2 separate regions of the Homo sapiens genome follow, and region 2 is linked to region 1. A link means that fine-mapping ties the variant in region 1 to the expression of a gene that starts in the linked region. Tissue or cell type: whole blood. Region 1 holds a variant in brackets; the other region holds the start of a gene. All regions are shown on one strand. Distances are from middle to middle.

Region 1 (8,102 bases):
GGAAGGGGAAAGGAAGGGAAAAGAGCCTCAGAAAGCTGAGGTTTCCCACATAATGACACTGGGGGGGTCCCTTGACTGAAGAGGCTGTGAGGGGCTCACTGTGGTGGTCCCGTTGCCAGGGTATGGAGCCAGGGGAGTCCCAGGACTCCCACAGCCTCAGAGGCAGGACGGGCCAGCCCTGCCTTGCTCAGGGCCAAGAACTACATTAGGCTGCACCTGGGCACAGCCACCGTACCTGCCAGGTGAGGCCTGGGCCCTGTGCACCCCTGGACTGGACAGTGGTGACAGAATGAGGGAAAACTAGCACTTTCTAGAAGGGCTTACCTTTTAATAAGCAGGTAACGTGATCAGATCTATGTTTTGTTTTTTTTTTTTTTGAGATGGAGTTTCACTCTTGTTACCCAGGCTGGAGTGCAATGGCGCGATCTCGGCTCACCACAACCTCTGCCTGCTGGGTTCAAGCGATTCTCCTGCCTCAGCCTCCCAAGTAGCTGGGATTACCGGCATGCGCTACCATGCCTGGCTAATTTTGTATTTTTAGTAGAAACGGGGTTTCTCCATGTTGGCCAGGCTGGTCTCAAACTCCTGACCTCAGGTGATCCGCCTGCCTCCCAAAGTGCTGGGATTACAGGCGTGAGCTACTGTGCCCAGCCTGAATCTATGTTTTAAAAGCCCAATCCAGCTGCTGGCATGACAGATGGATCAGTATGAAAGACTGGGACCTCCTAAGGGTGAGGGAAACAGGAGGCCCAGGTGGCCACGAGTTCACACCATGCAGTAGCCAGAGGCTTGGAGAGGAAGGCAGAAGGGGAGAAGGACACTGGGTTACCTGCCACCTTGAGCAGGCAAGCGGCAGCCAGCAACGGGACATGAGCTGCGCAGGTCGTGCTCATGGTGCTGCTACCTGCCCTGCAGTAAGTGGAGTGAAGCCAGGTCTGCCTGAGGAATCCATGTCTAGTCCCCATCTGCTAGAAGCAGAGATTCCTGGGGAGGCCTCGTCTGCAGTAGGGCAGGGACAGGGACATTGCTGATGGCAATTTGTCAAGGAGGCTGGGAGTGTTTGAGGCAAAGGTTTGTAGACTCTAGAGATAGGCCCCACAGACTGCCAGCTGGTCCGAGGCTGACTGAGGGGCCCCTAATCTCACCCAGGCCCTCAGAAGGCAGTTGCAAGCCCACCTGAGGACAGTGAGGGCCCAAGGAGGAGCTCCAGGGAGCACATGTGTTTCAATTAGGGCCAAAAGGAAAGGAGTCTTTAGAGAGAGAACCAAGGAAAAGAGGAAATGGTTGCCGTCACCACCTGGAGCAAGGGTCACCTGTCCAGGCAGCAATCGAGTGAGAGGCAAAGTGCTTCACAGCAACAGGATCTGCAGGTGTCCACTGTAAGAGCACGCTAACATCTGGATGAAAACGACACAGGGCAGATCTTGTGACGTCACTGAACTAAGAGCTCCTGGCCATGGAGAGTGTCAGGATGACACATAGGGCAGGGCATGCATGGAGGCCCCCAGCCTGGCCCTGACAGCCGCCAAAGTCACAGCCACACCAGAACCGGCCGCACTCCCTAGGAGAAACCTCCCCACAAGGCTCCTCTAGTGCCAAAGGCGGGAAGCACCCTGCAACTTCCCCACCCCAGGACTTCAAGATGGCGATGAGAGCAGGACGAGGACAGCAGCTTCTGAGACTGCAGTTTGTTTTCATGCCTCCTTGAGATTTTGCCTGGCAGCACTAAAAAACTCACATTTTTCCTCAAATAATAAAAGCCTACACAGAGGAAGAATAAATGCTGAAAACAAACTGGTGGAGGGTGAGCACTCTACCAGACTATGCAGATATGCTAGGTTATGAAGTAATTCTTAGTCAGGAGGCCAACTGCCAGGTCAACTTTCATGTGAGAGCCAAACCCTTGTCTCCTCATTCATTCCCCTGGGCCCATAGCCCCTGCACGCAGGGAAGCAGGCACTCAAGCGTGGAGGCGCCTCTCCTGAGCTGTGTGCAGGCACAGGCATGTGCACAGGTGCATTCCTGACATCTGCCCTGGGACATCCCAAAGCTGACTTCTTCCAGACAGGATTGCCAATCTACAGCACCGAGCCCAGGCCTGGCTGGGAAGAGGGGCAGGAGAGGACCTCAGGCCAGCTACCCATATGCACTGCCCACCACTCCCCATCCTGGACCCCCGTGATAAGCTCTGTCTGCTGCCAATAGCTTGGGCAAAGAAGCTGAGGCCTTTCTCACTTTGCTCTGGTGGCTTCCTAAAGGTGCTTGGAAAAGAGCACTTAGCTTGTCAAGCTTGGGTGTCTGCTCCTGATGGGAGAGCCATGGAAGCAGTAGCTGAGGCCACCACAGGATGTGGCCCCTGGAGGGTGGGAGAGCTTGCTGCAGCTCTGGGTGCCTCCTGCTGGCTGTGCACAAAGAGGACTTGTCACTAGACAACAAGCCAGCTCTCTGCATAGGATCCTGAGAGACAGAGGGCAACCTGTCCCGGTCACGGCCTCTTGGCCTTACTAGACAGTGTTTGTTTAATAAATGAAGTCATGAACAAATGACAGACACAGAAAAGAGGACTATAAAGAAATCAATTTAGGAGTTCTTTCCTTCTTATGTAAAGAGGTGTGGAGTCCGCAGGAAGAAGGCAAAGGTTTGGATACAGAATGTGCCTTTAGGCCGGCTGTGGTGGCTCATGCCTGCAATTTCAGCACTTTGGGAGGCCAAGGCGAGTGGATCACCTGAGGTCACGAGTTCAAGACCAGCCTGGCCAACAAGGTGAAATCCCGTCTCTACTAAAAATACAAAAATTAGCCGGGTGTGGTGGGTAATCCCAGCTACTTGGGAGGCTGAGGCAGGAGAACTGCTTGAACCCACGAGGTGGAGGTTGCAGCGAGCCGAGATCACGTTATTGCACTCTAGCCTAGGCAACAGAACAAGACTCCATCTCAAAAAAAAAAAAAAGAACACGCTTTTAGGTCAAAGCTTCCATGGACAGCCCCCGCTGTGACATTGCCACACCCAAGCAGCCTAACCCACAGCACAAGAAACACATTCGAGATGTAATCTACATCACATGACCTGAGAAATGGCACCAGAGGTGCTCAGATG[C/T]GTGGAGGCTCTGAAGGTGGGGACAGCAGAGTTCTGGCCATCAAAGGACCAGCCCCCACACTGGAATCTTCTCTGCTTTTTTTGTTTTGTTTTGTTTTAGATATGTCTGAGTCTTCTGATTCTCCATCTTTTAAAATGAGAACTAGGTCTTTAACCTTCAGGGCAGGAGGAAAAAAGCCCAAAGCAAAATCTGAGACACATGAACCACAGAATGCAAAAACAGGAGAGGGTTTTTCAAATTGGCTGCACAGAAATCAAACAGACGTAGGAGTGAGGTGAAAAGAAGGCCAAGACAAAGAAGCACTGGGTGGCCTATGGATGCCGCACATGGGGCCACCCTTAGAGCAGCAGAGCCCAAGGCCTGAGAGCACCGACTGCGGGGCTCAGGCTGGTCTGGCCAAGTGCCTGCTGACACAGATGGAAGATTCTCCACCAAAGCCCAGTTCTAATGACCAGCACACATGCTACCTGCAAGATGAAACGCTTGGGCTTACAAGAGAAAAGAACCAGAAATGTTTGTTCTGATTACTTGGGACAGGAACCTGAGCAACAGAAGGACACAGGAAGGAAGGAGCAGCAGACTGGGATGCACTGAGCTCAGGTCTCAGACTTCAGACCTGAGTCTGACACTGCCCTGGCGGGAGTGGCACCCACAAGAGGCACAAAGGGCTCCCTGGTGTCTTCACCATCCTACCTGGTCACATCCGGGGCAGTGGTCGGGTGCACGTGCTTCATGATGGTCTGGATCCAGTTCCGCCGAATCCCAGATGTCATGGCCGACAGGGTAAACTCGCCCTCCTTTGTCTACAGAGAAAAGATGAGGCACCATCAGTGACTGTCCCCTAGGGTGCCTGCTGCCCTCCATCTCCAAAGAAGCTCCCTGCACTGGGTAAAGTCCCACAGGGAGAAAGGCTGTGACTGGGTGACCCTTCTAGGAGTGCCACATGTGCCCACTACTGGGACATGAGGGAGCTGGAGAGCAGGAGACGTCAAAGCTGTGGGAGGGACGTGTATTTGTGGCAATGGTAAATCCGGTATCTTCTCTCAGTAACAAGCTCACAGTTACTGAGCACCCACTACGCACCAGCAGCCTGTCCACTCAGACAGAGGAGGATGCTGCACCCCTCTTTAAGGAGTTCCCAGCCTCGGGGGAAGGGCAGAATCAGCATGTGCTGAGCAGTGGTGGAGGTGGGGAATCCGGAAGGGCGTGTGTGTTGGGCGTGGGGAGTGGCACCTGCAGTCTGCACTCACACAGGCACATGGCATGATGGGCCCAGGGAGTGGTTAAGAACAAGGGGTATCAGGGTCTTGTTGGTGGCACTGAGAAAAGGCAGGGAGACCTGCTGGGTGGTTACTGCAGCTGTCCAAGTGATGAGAATTAAGGTGATGGCAGGGGACAGGGCAGCTCAGAAGTAACAAAAGGGGTATGAACAGCGTCTGGCTGGTTGGGTTGGGGAGCACCTAGACAAGCCCTAGACTCCTGCTTGGATGAGGTGGAGTCTAGGGCTTGTCCTCGGTGCTTGTGCAAGGTAGCAGGGGAGGAGCCTGTTTTGGGCGAGGAACGGGGCAGCAGGTAGGACAAAGCAGCAAAGAGCACATGGCTCTGGGACATGACCACTGCGCCCCTGAGCAGACCTGCCTGGGTACCAGGCAGGGGAGGGCCAGTGGCCTGCATGGAGCTGGAGGCCTGCTTCTGCACCTACAGGCACCTGCCCAACAGAAGCGAGGGCTGCAGCCTTGAACCGAGAGCTGCTCACAAGCAGACTCAGCAGCCAGGTCAGTAGGGAAGCTGACGGCAGGATGCAATCATGAGGATGGTTTTCGGATGGGTGCTAGTGGCCTGGCCAGAAGCCAAAACAGGAGATCACGCACCGGCCTGACGTGCCACAAAGCACAGCTGGGAGGGACCTGACCTGCCCCTCCACATGCCCGATCAAGACACCACCACTGCCCAGCTCGGTCCTCCTTCATCAGTTCTCATATCCATGTGAGCTGAGTTGGGGGGGTACCACCTTCTCCTGGGTCCATCCTTCTCCACCCCCAGGTGTGGGCGTTGCTGGAGTTTGGCCTCAGCACTCCACATACAGCTGTTTTCTCCAGCTGAATTTTCTTTCCCAGCGGCTGCCTAATGTTCTCTGAGAGCCCATCATGCCTCAAATGGATCACAGCCGGAATTCCAGGGGATCCCCCTGCTTCTGTGAAGTCAGCTCTTCTGCTGGCTTCTCAGTGGGCGGGGCCTTCTTGCCAGGTCCTGGCCCTGCCCTCACCTCTTCCTCCCAGGTGCTGCTCCTTCCTTTCTTGCCCAGCTTTACCGTGCCAGCCTGGTTCCTTTCTAATGGACCTGCATGTCCCGCCAGACATGTATCATGAACGCACAACTGACTGGCATCTTCTAACACCCTTCAGTGCTCTCCACAAAGGCTGGACCAGCGCCAACCTGACTCTCCACCCAGCACTCTAGCCCCAGACTGGCTCTGTGCTCTCTGTGCCACCAGGTCTGGAGTCCAGTCTGGGACATGCTTTCACACTCATCCCTCCTGCTGAGCCTTGAGGGATCCTTCTCCAGGAAGCCTCCCCCAGGAAGCCTTCTCCACACTGGAAGCATCTCCTCATTCCTTAGAACTCTCAGTAGTTGGGGATCACCGAAAGTCATCAGGATAAGCCCTACCAGGGTGAAGTGAGGAGGGGTTGATCAGTGGGTGAGAGTGGCTGATGCCCTCATTTGTCACTAGGAGAGCGGGGTGAGTTCTCAGACTTCAGGTGTGCCCTGCCTGGAGAAAGCTGCTCATGAAGATGGGAGGTGGACGGCAGGAGAGGAGGCTCACCGGGCACTATGCCCGCCTACCCCTCCCACAGCGGATGAGGACAGAGGAGCCTTGAAACTTGGGCAGTGCAGGCCACTAAGAGCAGACAACTCACACCCGGCCCTGGTGCCAGGCTGTCAGTGTAGCCTCCAACTGTGACTCAGCTCCTCTCGCAGATGCCTGCACGCAGGAAGCCACAGCCAGCAGCCCAGTGGGCTGGCGGCCAGGATTTTCTTAGTAAATGAACACACTGGCCTTTGGGTCTATACTTCAGTCTCCTCTAAGTTGGGCCAAACTGAGTGAGCCCCAAATACTGGATCAACTCTCAACACAGCAATAAAATTGAGTTTCTGGGCCCCAAAATTTGAAGGTATGACCCTGCTACAGGTGAGCCCACCAGAGTCTAGCCTTGTGTGAGAACCAAGTCCCAGGGCCAGGGCCCAGCCCCATGGGGGCAGCTCTCTACTCATCACACTCTCCACCCATCTTAAAGCCCTTGCGAGTGACGAACTAACTTTACCCAAAGAGAGGCCTGGCCTCTGTCCTAGCTCCTGGGAGGTAACTTCCAAACCTTGGAATTTCCTGAATGACTAGAGTCTTTGTTACTCATGGTGGTACCCTGGGACCCCACCTAACACTTCATGCTGACAAGACAACTCAGGGTAGAGGCTGGCCTGGCCAGAAGCAGGAAATTAGAGGAAACCCATTAAATCAGAGGGTTGGGGTTTGGGCCATGTGAAAGTAGCCAACCATGGCGGGAAGGGCTTTAGGTGGAGTTCAACTATGAGGACAACAACTCCATCAACCACAGCAGCTACAGAGCCTCCTAAAACTCAACACCGGGGCTCAGGTGGGCTTCCGGGCAATGCTCTGCGCACTGCCCCACATCAGGGCTAAGAGGACACCGTGTCCCCAAGGATGCAGAAACTTTTGGCATCTGTGACTCCCCCAGTCCCAGATTCTACTCCACATGGCTCTCCCTTGGCTGGTTCTGACTTACATACTTTCTCTATAATAAAACTCATTGTAAAGACAGTACTTTCCTGAATCCTGTGAGTCATTCTAGTGAATTTTTGAAACTGAAGGTGGTTTTGGAAACCTCCGGACTCACAACTGGTGTCAGAAGTGGGGGCAGGACTGGGCACAGTGATTCATGCCTATAATCCCAGCACTTTGGGAAGCCAAGGCAAGTGGATCGCTGGAGCCCAGGGGTTCAAAACCCTCCTGGGCAACATGGTGAAACCCTGTCTCTCTAAATAATGATAATAATAATAATAATAATAATAATAATAATAAGCTGGGCATGGTGGCATGCACCTGTAGTCCCAGTTACTCTGGAGGCTGAGGTAGAAGGATCGTTAGAGTCTAGGATTTCGAGCCTGCAGTGAGCCATGATTGTGCCACTACACTCAAGCCTGGACAGAGAGTGAGACCCTGTCTTGGGGGAAAAAAAAAGAAATGGAGGCAGATGTGGCAGTCAGGAGGACTGTGCTCTTAACCTGGAGTCTGGCTGACTGCAGGCAGTCCTTGATCCACACAGTTTTGAAGAAACAGCCAATAAGAACCATTTTGTCCTACCAATAAGATTTTTTTTTTTTTTTTTTTTTTGAGAACAGTGCAATGCCTTGCTCATCTGAGTACCTCACAAGATTTTGGGAAAAAATAGCCTTGTAAGTAAATGAATGAACAAACACATGAATAAGTGAGTAAAAAGCGGATGTAAATAATTGACTAACACTTTCATTCTTATTCCCCATACCCCACATCCTTCCAATTGCCCCAACTCCAGCATTACAAAAAACAAAAGAAAAAAGGAACCTTCAGAAACAAAAAAGCTTTAAGCAGTCTTCAGAAAAAAGATACTAACGTCTAATGTACTGTTCACATCACAAATTGGGGAATAGGGTCAGGTGCCACAGGACAGAGGTGTCAAGGGTAGTGGGAAAGACTAAGTGCTGACCATACACGCTGCATCAGGCCTGTCCAGAAGTGCCCCCAGCCCAGACATTAGGCACTCTGACATGCATCCCTGCCTGTCAAGCCTGTGGCCCCACTTCCATCCCTGGACTCACATGTATCTGGAAGCCATAGTTTCTCTGAACTGGATACTCTGTGACATCGTAACATGCGGACAAGTCAATTTCTCCATCCAAGTCGGCTGCCTGCCGAGGGAAGTGAGAATGTCTTGAGATTTTTAGGAAG
Region 2 (8,102 bases), 110 kb after region 1:
GGAAACGGGTTAAATTATAGTACACTCCTAAAGGCCTAATATGCAAAATGGTTCTGGCATCTTTATATGCAACACCATGAAAAGAACGTAAAGATATGCTGATAAGCAGAAAACAAAAAATATGTCGCAGAGCAAATACATGCACACAGTTCAGGATAAAAAGGTTTAACTGTATATTTGAGCTGGGCACAGTGACTCACGCCTGTAATCCCGGCACTTTGGGAGGCCGAGGCAGGCGGATCACGAGGTCAGGAGATCAAGACCATCCTGGCTAACACAGTGAAACCTCGTCTCTACTAAAAATACAAAAAATTAGCCAGGCATGGTGGCGGGTGCCTGTAGTCCCAGCTACTCGGGAGGCTGAGGCAGAAGAATGGCATGAACCTGGGAGGCGTAGCTTGCAGTGAGCTCAGATCGCGCCACTGCACACCAGCCTGGGCAACAGAGCGAGACTCCGCCTCAAAAAAAAAAAAAAAACTGTATATTTGGGTCCGTATGTCGCTGAGAAATGCACAGGAAAACTGGAGGATAAATGACACTCTGTGAACAGGGGCCTGGAACAAGTAATAAAGGACGGTCACTTATCACTTATCCCAGATTACTCCAAATTTCCGTGAGGAGGAAAAGGCAAAGAACTCCACTGCTCCAAGCCAGCATTCTCAAGGCACCTCCTGCAACATAACTATCCCTGACATTATTGTCCTCATCATGTGCTCATGGTGTGGCCACTGTAGACCCTGAACAGGAGTAGGGGAACTAACATTGGCTTCAGAATCCTGGCTCCATCCCTGAACTGGGCAAGTCACTTCCCTTCTCTGGGTTTCAATCTTCTCACCGGTAAGAGGAAGTGGTTACATTAGCTGATCTCCAAGTCCCTTCCAGGTCTGATGCCATAATACAGTCCCTGCAAGAGGTTTCTGTGCCTCTCTAGGGGAAAAACAAACAAACAAAACCCACAGCTGAGGAAATAAACCTCAAACCAAAAGGCTCAGAGAAATGTCTGCTCCTGGGAAGATGACATCTCCAGAGCAAAAGCCGGCCAAGGCTGCCCACCACCTCCCTGGGCCCAGTATCCTCTCCTCTTAAGGAGGGAGTGGCCTCGATGGTGGCTGATGTATCTTCCAGCTTTGACGGTCTAAAATAAGCTCCAGGCTGGGAGGGGCAGCAGGAAGCAGGGGCTTGGGGGAGACTGATGGGAACCGATTGGTTGAGGTTTTCTAATGGAGCCATAAGGATGAGAGTGAGAGGGAGGGCCGGATGCAGAGAGCAGCAGAGAAGGCTGTTGGCAACAGCCCTGAGTCTCCCTCCTCTCTTTTCAAGAGCAGTTTCTTCCTGAAAGATCCCAGGAGGTAGAATGCTGGGCTAACCTCTCCCAGCACAAATAACCCCACTCATTATTTCAGAAACTACCATTCCAGTTGTGCCCTGAAGGTCTCAGGCCTGTTTCAAAACCCACAATTCAACTTTGAATACAGTGAGAGTACAGTATTTTAAGTTTGCCTCTCCCCGTGAATCCAATTAATAATCAACAGATTAAAAAAAATCTTAGCAGATTGGACTCAAACATGCAGATTCCATCCTAGTTTATCTAAGCTTAAGAATTCGAAAACAGCCCCTATGAGGTGTAAATTTACCAATTTTGACAGTTGCTTAGAATAACCAGGAAACTTACAAACCTCTCTCAGAACAACCCTTGCCCAGAAACTTCTTAAAGTGGCAGGTTTTTTTGGTTTGTTAAATTGTAAGAGAAAAAAGTTTCATAAAATATCATTTCTTGCTTTTCACAAATGCTCAGTGAAGGAGGTAAGCCAGGGACCAGGATTCCCAATTTACAGATAAGGAAATTAAAAGATACAGAAGTAAAGGGATTTGTTCAAGGTCACACAGCTGGAAGTGACAGCCAAGACCTGAAGCAAAGTCTCCTAACAACTCCTCATCGCATAAACTGTTTCATCCAAAAAAGCATCCAGATGAGAAGAAGGAATCAAGTTCTCCTTTACACTCCAAAACACCCTCCGAGGTAAATGAGTTCTATCCGTCCCAAGCTGACCGTCCTTAAAACCCTTGGTATCTTAACCATCTATGACTTTGCAGCCTTGAGTGTTTCGTTAAGCTTTTGGGGTTTAGATGAAAGGAATCTTTTCCTGGCAGTTGGAAACCTGACCTCAGAGAAAGGCCCCGTGCCCCAGGCCGTAACCCCTGCCCCACCACCCTACTCCAGTCGGCCATGTAAACAAGTCAAACCCTGGGTGCACTGAAGTGGCATTAAAAACAACCAGGCCCGTTCACTCGTTTTCAGTCTAAGGGGTTCTTCTGCGACAGGAGTGGCTACAACTAGGTCACACTGGACTGGAATGTGAAGGGACTTCCCCTGGCTTCATTCAGGAGGCTGAGAGAAAGCTCTGAAGAGGATGGAGATGATGGCCGTGGGGAGGGTACCGAGGCACATCCCAAGGAGGTGCACACAAGGCTCGGAATCCTGGAACACTAGGAGTTCAAACAGCAATCACTGCAGGGGTTCCCAAGGGCCATGGGGGCTGCAGCCAAGCCTCTTGGAGCCTTTCATCAATACAAATTCCCCATCTCCCCAGTCACTCCAGGGCGGGGGCCCCAGAACTCTGTGTTTAATGGCTATGACTCTAATGCACGTTTGGGAGTCATAACTAGTTCAAAGCCCTGTTTGACAGTTAAGGCTGGGAGACAGAAATCAACTTTCCCGAGGACCCACAGGTCTCCTCACCCCTCGGCCAGTGACCAGGGAACTGGTCCCAGCTCCCCGCTAAACTACGGCCTGCCAAACTAAGTTCAAGAACAAGACCCTCCTCGCCAGATTTGGACACCCCTTCACCTCTCTCCAGTGCTTGACAGTGACGATGATTCAGAATCGGGGCAGGCTGCGTCCCACTAGACGGAAGCCCACAGTCCTCCCCAACAATCCGACCCCTGGGCCACTCTGGCTGGACAAATCCAAGTCCAGTCCCAAGCCAGAATCTCAGGGGGGTCCCGTCAAGCGGCATGCAATCCCTAAGCGCTTTGTTCCTACTAAGCGAAACCAGGCACTTTTGAGTCACCCAAAAAGCATGAATCACACAGCCGGGCAATGGGAACGGGAAAGGATGTTATTTTTCGGCATACTCGAGGATTTTCCCTTTGTCCCAGCTCTGTCAATGCACTTCCCGTCCCCGTCCCCATGCCCCAGGACTCGCGCATTTCCCTGCTCCATTTTTATTTTCCCTGCAGCCCTTGGCGGCGCCCCGGCCGCCGACCCGCGGCTCCCAGAACGGAGGTGTCCGGGCCGGCCCCAGTCGCTCACCTGCGTCAGGTCCTCGTCGTTGAGCAGATGCGACTCGCGGGGCTTGAAGCAGTTCTGACACTTGCTCTTGTTGAAGATGTTGGCCTGGAATTTCCTGCACGGGTTCTCCTTGGCTGCCGACATGGTCGGCGCGGCGGCGACGGCGGCGGCGGCGGCGGCGCAGGCCTGGCCGGCCTGGCGCTCCCGGCGGGCTAGGGGCTCAGCGCGGCCGCGCCGCATCCCTCGCCGGCCCCGCCGCAGGCCCGGCCCGGCCTCCTTCCCGGCGGGCGGTTCGCTGCACGCGCCGAGGCTCCTGAGCCGCCCGGGCCTCACAGCGCGCGCGACGCCCAGCTCCCGCCCGCACCGCCGCCGCCCGGCCGCCGCGGGCCCATGGACGCGGCCTCGGGCCCGCTGCTTCCCGCTGCGGCCCGCCTCTCAGGCTCCGGTCGCCGCCGTCCCGGCTCGTCCGCGCCGCCGCAGCTGCCCTCGGCGCCCCGCGGCCGCTGCAAATGGGACCGGAGCGCCTCACGCACTACGGGGGCGGGCGGGCGGGCGGGCGGGCGGGCGGCCGGGCGCGGGGAGGTGCCGGGGCGTACGGGGCGGGGCCGCGCCCGACGCGATCGGCAGCCCCACCGGCCAATGGGGTTGGCGCGCTCTCGCTAACAAAGGAACCTCTGGGCCAATGGCAGTCGGGGGCGGGACCGAGGGCCGCCGAGCGCAAGGTAAGTTGTGCAGGCCGGGAAGGTGGGGGCGCCGGCATGGGACGTTCAGGTTTGGTGGACTGGCGCCGAGGCCGGCCGGGCTGACAGCTGCAGGGCCCGGGCGGGGGATGCGGGGGAAGGCGGAGCCGACCTCAGGCTGCCTCTCTGCAACCCCCTCGCTCCCAGGCTCGCCTTCCCGCGCCCACGCTGTACACCCAACGGAGGCATCTTCCCCAAGCCCAGCTCGGAGAGGATTAGTTTAGCACCTACTGTGTACCAGGCCCCCTCGTAGGAGTCAGTTAGCGTCGGGAAGGGCTGGATACTCCAAGGGCTCGCTCATTAAAGGTTCGCAACCTCTCCTTTCTCATCCCCATTTTACATAGGAGGAGACTGAGGAGCAGAGAAGTAACAGCGGGTAGTATTTCAAGGGATGACTAAGAGAAGATGTCAGCGGACTTGAAGAGCTGTCAGCTCCATTAGGGGAGATGAGCGAAGGCTGACTCTCTGCCAGGTGCTGAGCTAGGCATTCTTTCCCCCATGATGTGCTTGAGGAAATGAAGGGTCAGACACCTGGAGTAATTTGTGTAGGATCACTCTGCTAGGAAGGGGCCGAGCTGTCACTCCCGTCCTCCATTGTCCAGCCTCCTGGCCAAAAGACAACCTGGAAAAGGCTGTCAAAGGCTCAGGCAGAAGGTTGCAGGAGCCCAGAGAGGGGAGAAATGCGCTCTTTAGAAAAATTCGGGTGGCTTCAAGGAGGAGGGGAAGTTTAAGTGGACAGTGAGAGGGTTGAGTGTGGCTGGAAGTGGAGATAGGGGAAGAAGGAGCAAGAGGGATTGGAAGAGGGCTCTATCACCCAGGCCTTGTATTCCAAGCCCAGGCGTGCACATGTCATCCCACTGGCAGCTGGGAGTCATGGTGAGTCTTTAAACAGGGGGGTGAGCTAACCCAGCCTTCACGGAGGAGGTGACATTGGAGCATGTGGTAGTGGCAGCCACAGCAGCTGTCGCTCAGGGAATGGAGGAGGTTTTAGGAGGAGAAGTAGCAAATGCTTCCAGAGCTGTGTACTTTTCCACGGATCATCTGGTAAATATCCCAGGGAGGTGGATTTCAACTTAGTGTAAGAAAATGCTTTTCCTCAAAAGGGAGCTGTGGGAAGGCAGATCAAAGTCCTTTGGCAGCCTAAGGGGGAAAGCCCAGCTCCACCAGGCAGGAGCTCTGTGGCCTCGGGCAAGTCCCTTAACCTGCCTGGTGCCTCAGTGACCTCATGTACAAAATTGGCATTAATTAATTAATGTGAACATTAAATGATATAATGCTTGTTAAGTAGCATAATGTTAATTGGTGAATCTAGGCAAAAGGTGTTTATTGTACTATTCTTTTTTTTTTTTTTTTTTTTTTTTTTTTTTGAGACGGAGTCTCGCTCTGTCGCCCAGGCTGGAGTGCAGTGGCGGGATCTCGGCTCACTGCAAGCTCCGCCTCCCGGGTTCACACCATTCTCCTGCCTCAGCCTCCCGAGTAGCTGGGACTACAGGCGCCCGCCACTACGCCCGGCTAATTTTTTGTATTTTTAGTAGAGACGGGGTTTCACCGTTTTAGCCGGGATGGTCTCGATCTCCTGACCTCGTGATCCGCCCGCCTCGGCCTCCCAAAGTGCTGGGATTACAGGCGTGAGCCACCGCGCCCGGCCTTATTGTACTATTCTTGCAACTTTTCTGTTGCTTTAAATTTTTGCAAAATAAAAAAGGGACGGAAGACTGACAATTCTGCCCTGCAGAGAATACTCAGAAACTGATAGAAGAGGTGGCCACTGGGGAGGGGAGCTGGGTGGTTGAGAGGTGACCTACTTTTAATTTTCATTGCAATCCCTTTTGTTTCTGCTGAATTTAGTATTGTCTGCATGTACAACTTGTTTAAAAATATATATATACATACATATATATATATATATATATATATATTTTCTTTCTTGATGTCCTGCCCATTCCTCAAGGCCACCTCCCTTAAAGTGCTCAGCATGTTCTGCTCAGGTCAGTAGGCACATCCAGCACCTGCACTGGACTGGAGGGGTCCACAGTAGGGGCGCAAAGAAGAGTTTCATTCAGCAACTCAGAGGCAGCCTGCCCGGCAGGAGCCCACACTCAAGCAAGTGGAGACAAACAGAAACAGGAGACAGAGAAGTTCAATCCGGGGTGTTGTGGGGGCCCACACAGGGGCACCCAGCCCCGTAGGCAGCTTCAGGGAAGGCTCCTGGAGGAGGCAATGCCTAGGCCGAGTCTGGAGCTGAGTAAGACCCAGCCAGAGAAGGTGAAGGGAAAGACACGTCAAACTGGGGCACCAATTATAGAGTCTCAGGCCTTGAAACCAAAGGGTGTGTTCATGAACAGAAGCAGCTTTCTATCACTGGGTAGTTCAGAGAGGCAGGAGTGACCAGCATTGAGAGGCACTGGGAGGAGTAGTGGATGGTGCAAGCCTAGCCTCTTCAGGGAGACAGGTATGGTTTTTGTTGTTAATACTATTTCATCTCCATTTTATAGAAGACACACACGAGGCTCAGGACATATCAGGAACTTGCCTGTGGTCACAATTATAGATCCTACAAGTGAAGATTTGAGCCCACACAGGCCAGCACCGGAGCTGCCTGGGCCAGGGGCAGTCATCAATTTTGAATTTTTTTCGGCTGAGCACTTAGGTAAGGGCTGCTGATCTGGAGAATGAATCAGGGGCAAGGACTGAGAGAGCTGCAGAGGAGAGAGGGTAGCAGCCTGACTAGGATAGGGTCAGTGGGAGGCAAGGGAATGAATTTGGAAAATGTTTAGGAGGTAGAATCAATTAGTTGCGCTCCTCTCCAAAACCCTCACGGTAGAGTGGGGTCTTGGTTGCTACTCCATTTCCCCTGTCTAGTTCAGTGCCTGGCATAGAGCAGGGGCTCAAAAACACCCCATGGGGGTGCAGTGGCTCACACCTGTAGTCCCAGCACTTTGGGAGGCCGAGGCGGGCGGATCATGAGATCAGGAGTTCGAGACCATCCTGGCTAACACAGTGAAACCCTGTCTCTACTAAATATACAAAAAATTAGCCAGGCTTGGTGGCAGGCGCCTGTAGTCCCAGCTACTAGGGAGGCTGAGGCAGGATAATGGCATGAACCCGGGAGGCGGAGCTTGCAGTGAGCCGAGATCGTGCCACTGCACTCCAGCCTGGGCGACAGAGTGAGACTCTGTCTCAAAAAACAAAACAAACAAGAAAAACACCCCATGGGTGAATGGATGAAAAGTCATCGTTCCACCTTGTATTGTAATATCTCCTCCACCAGATTATGAAATCCATACCGACACAGTCTGTGTCTCATAACCTTGGCTTCCCTTTCCAGGGGCCTAGAACAGCACTTTGCATGAAGTTCAATACTCAGTGTAAACATGTAAAGATTCACTGGGCTGTATGCTTTTTTCACTGCATTGTGTACACCTCAATGTATATTGTTTATCTCAAAAAAGCAAATAAGCAAGCAAGCAAGAAAAGGCCGCTCAGGTGAGCCCCAAATGCAGGTAAGTCTTGATTTGTGGCTCTGACTGCCATCCTGGGAAGTTTTCCCTGTGTCCTGTTAGGGAGCAGAATTTACACACAGATACCCAGAGGTAACCACTATTTTGATCTCCATCACCATAGATGAGTGGAATCCGCTGCGAGCTATGCCTGGCTCTTCTCATTCAACAGTATGCCTGTGAAATTCAATCCACACGGCTACTGTATATATCAGTACTTCATTCTTTTTCATTGCTGCCTGGTAGTCCCTTGTGTGGAAATACTACAATTTATCTGTCCATGTTCCCGTGGATAGACATTCAGGATGTTTCCAGTTTGGGGCCATTATGAATAATGCTACGAGTATCTTCGTGCTTGTCTTTGGTGGACATAAGCACTTCTTTCTTTTTTTTTTTTTTTTTTGTTTGAGATGGAGTCTCGCTCTTTCGCCCAGGCTGGAGTGCAGTGGCACGATCTTGGCTCACTGCAAGCTCCGCCTCCTGGGTTCAGGCCATTCTCCTGCCTCAGCCTTCTGAGTAGCTGGGACTACAGGCACTCGCCATCACGCCCGGCTAATTTTTTTTGTATTT

Evidence for each region. PIP is the estimated chance that this variant, and not a neighbour inherited with it, causes the effect.
Region 2: MPRIP starts here. The variant in region 1 is fine-mapped to the expression of MPRIP in whole blood (INTERVAL, PIP 0.98).

The regions. Positions count from the first base shown.
Region 1 is chr17:17,150,104-17,158,205 of GRCh38, reverse strand. MPRIP (myosin phosphatase Rho interacting protein) reads right to left here. Exons shown (of 24, transcript NM_001364716.4): 12 at 7,973-8,062; 13 at 3,791-3,900. Among named protein-coding and RNA genes, the nearest start is that of PLD6, 52 kb to the left of the region's middle. RefSeq lists an enhancer at 7,786-7,865. The variant C/T (reference allele first, on the strand shown) is at 3,097.
Region 2 is chr17:17,038,183-17,046,284 of GRCh38, reverse strand. MPRIP (myosin phosphatase Rho interacting protein) reads right to left here and starts at 3,828. Exons shown (of 24, transcript NM_001364716.4): 1 at 3,314-3,828. The coding sequence starts at 3,436. LOC124903938 (a long non-coding RNA gene) reads left to right here and starts at 3,960. Exons shown (of 3, transcript XR_007065644.1): 1 at 3,960-4,014; 2 at 4,377-4,504; 3 at 6,528-6,942. RefSeq lists silencers at 1,836-2,130, 3,804-4,263 and an enhancer at 1,942-3,141.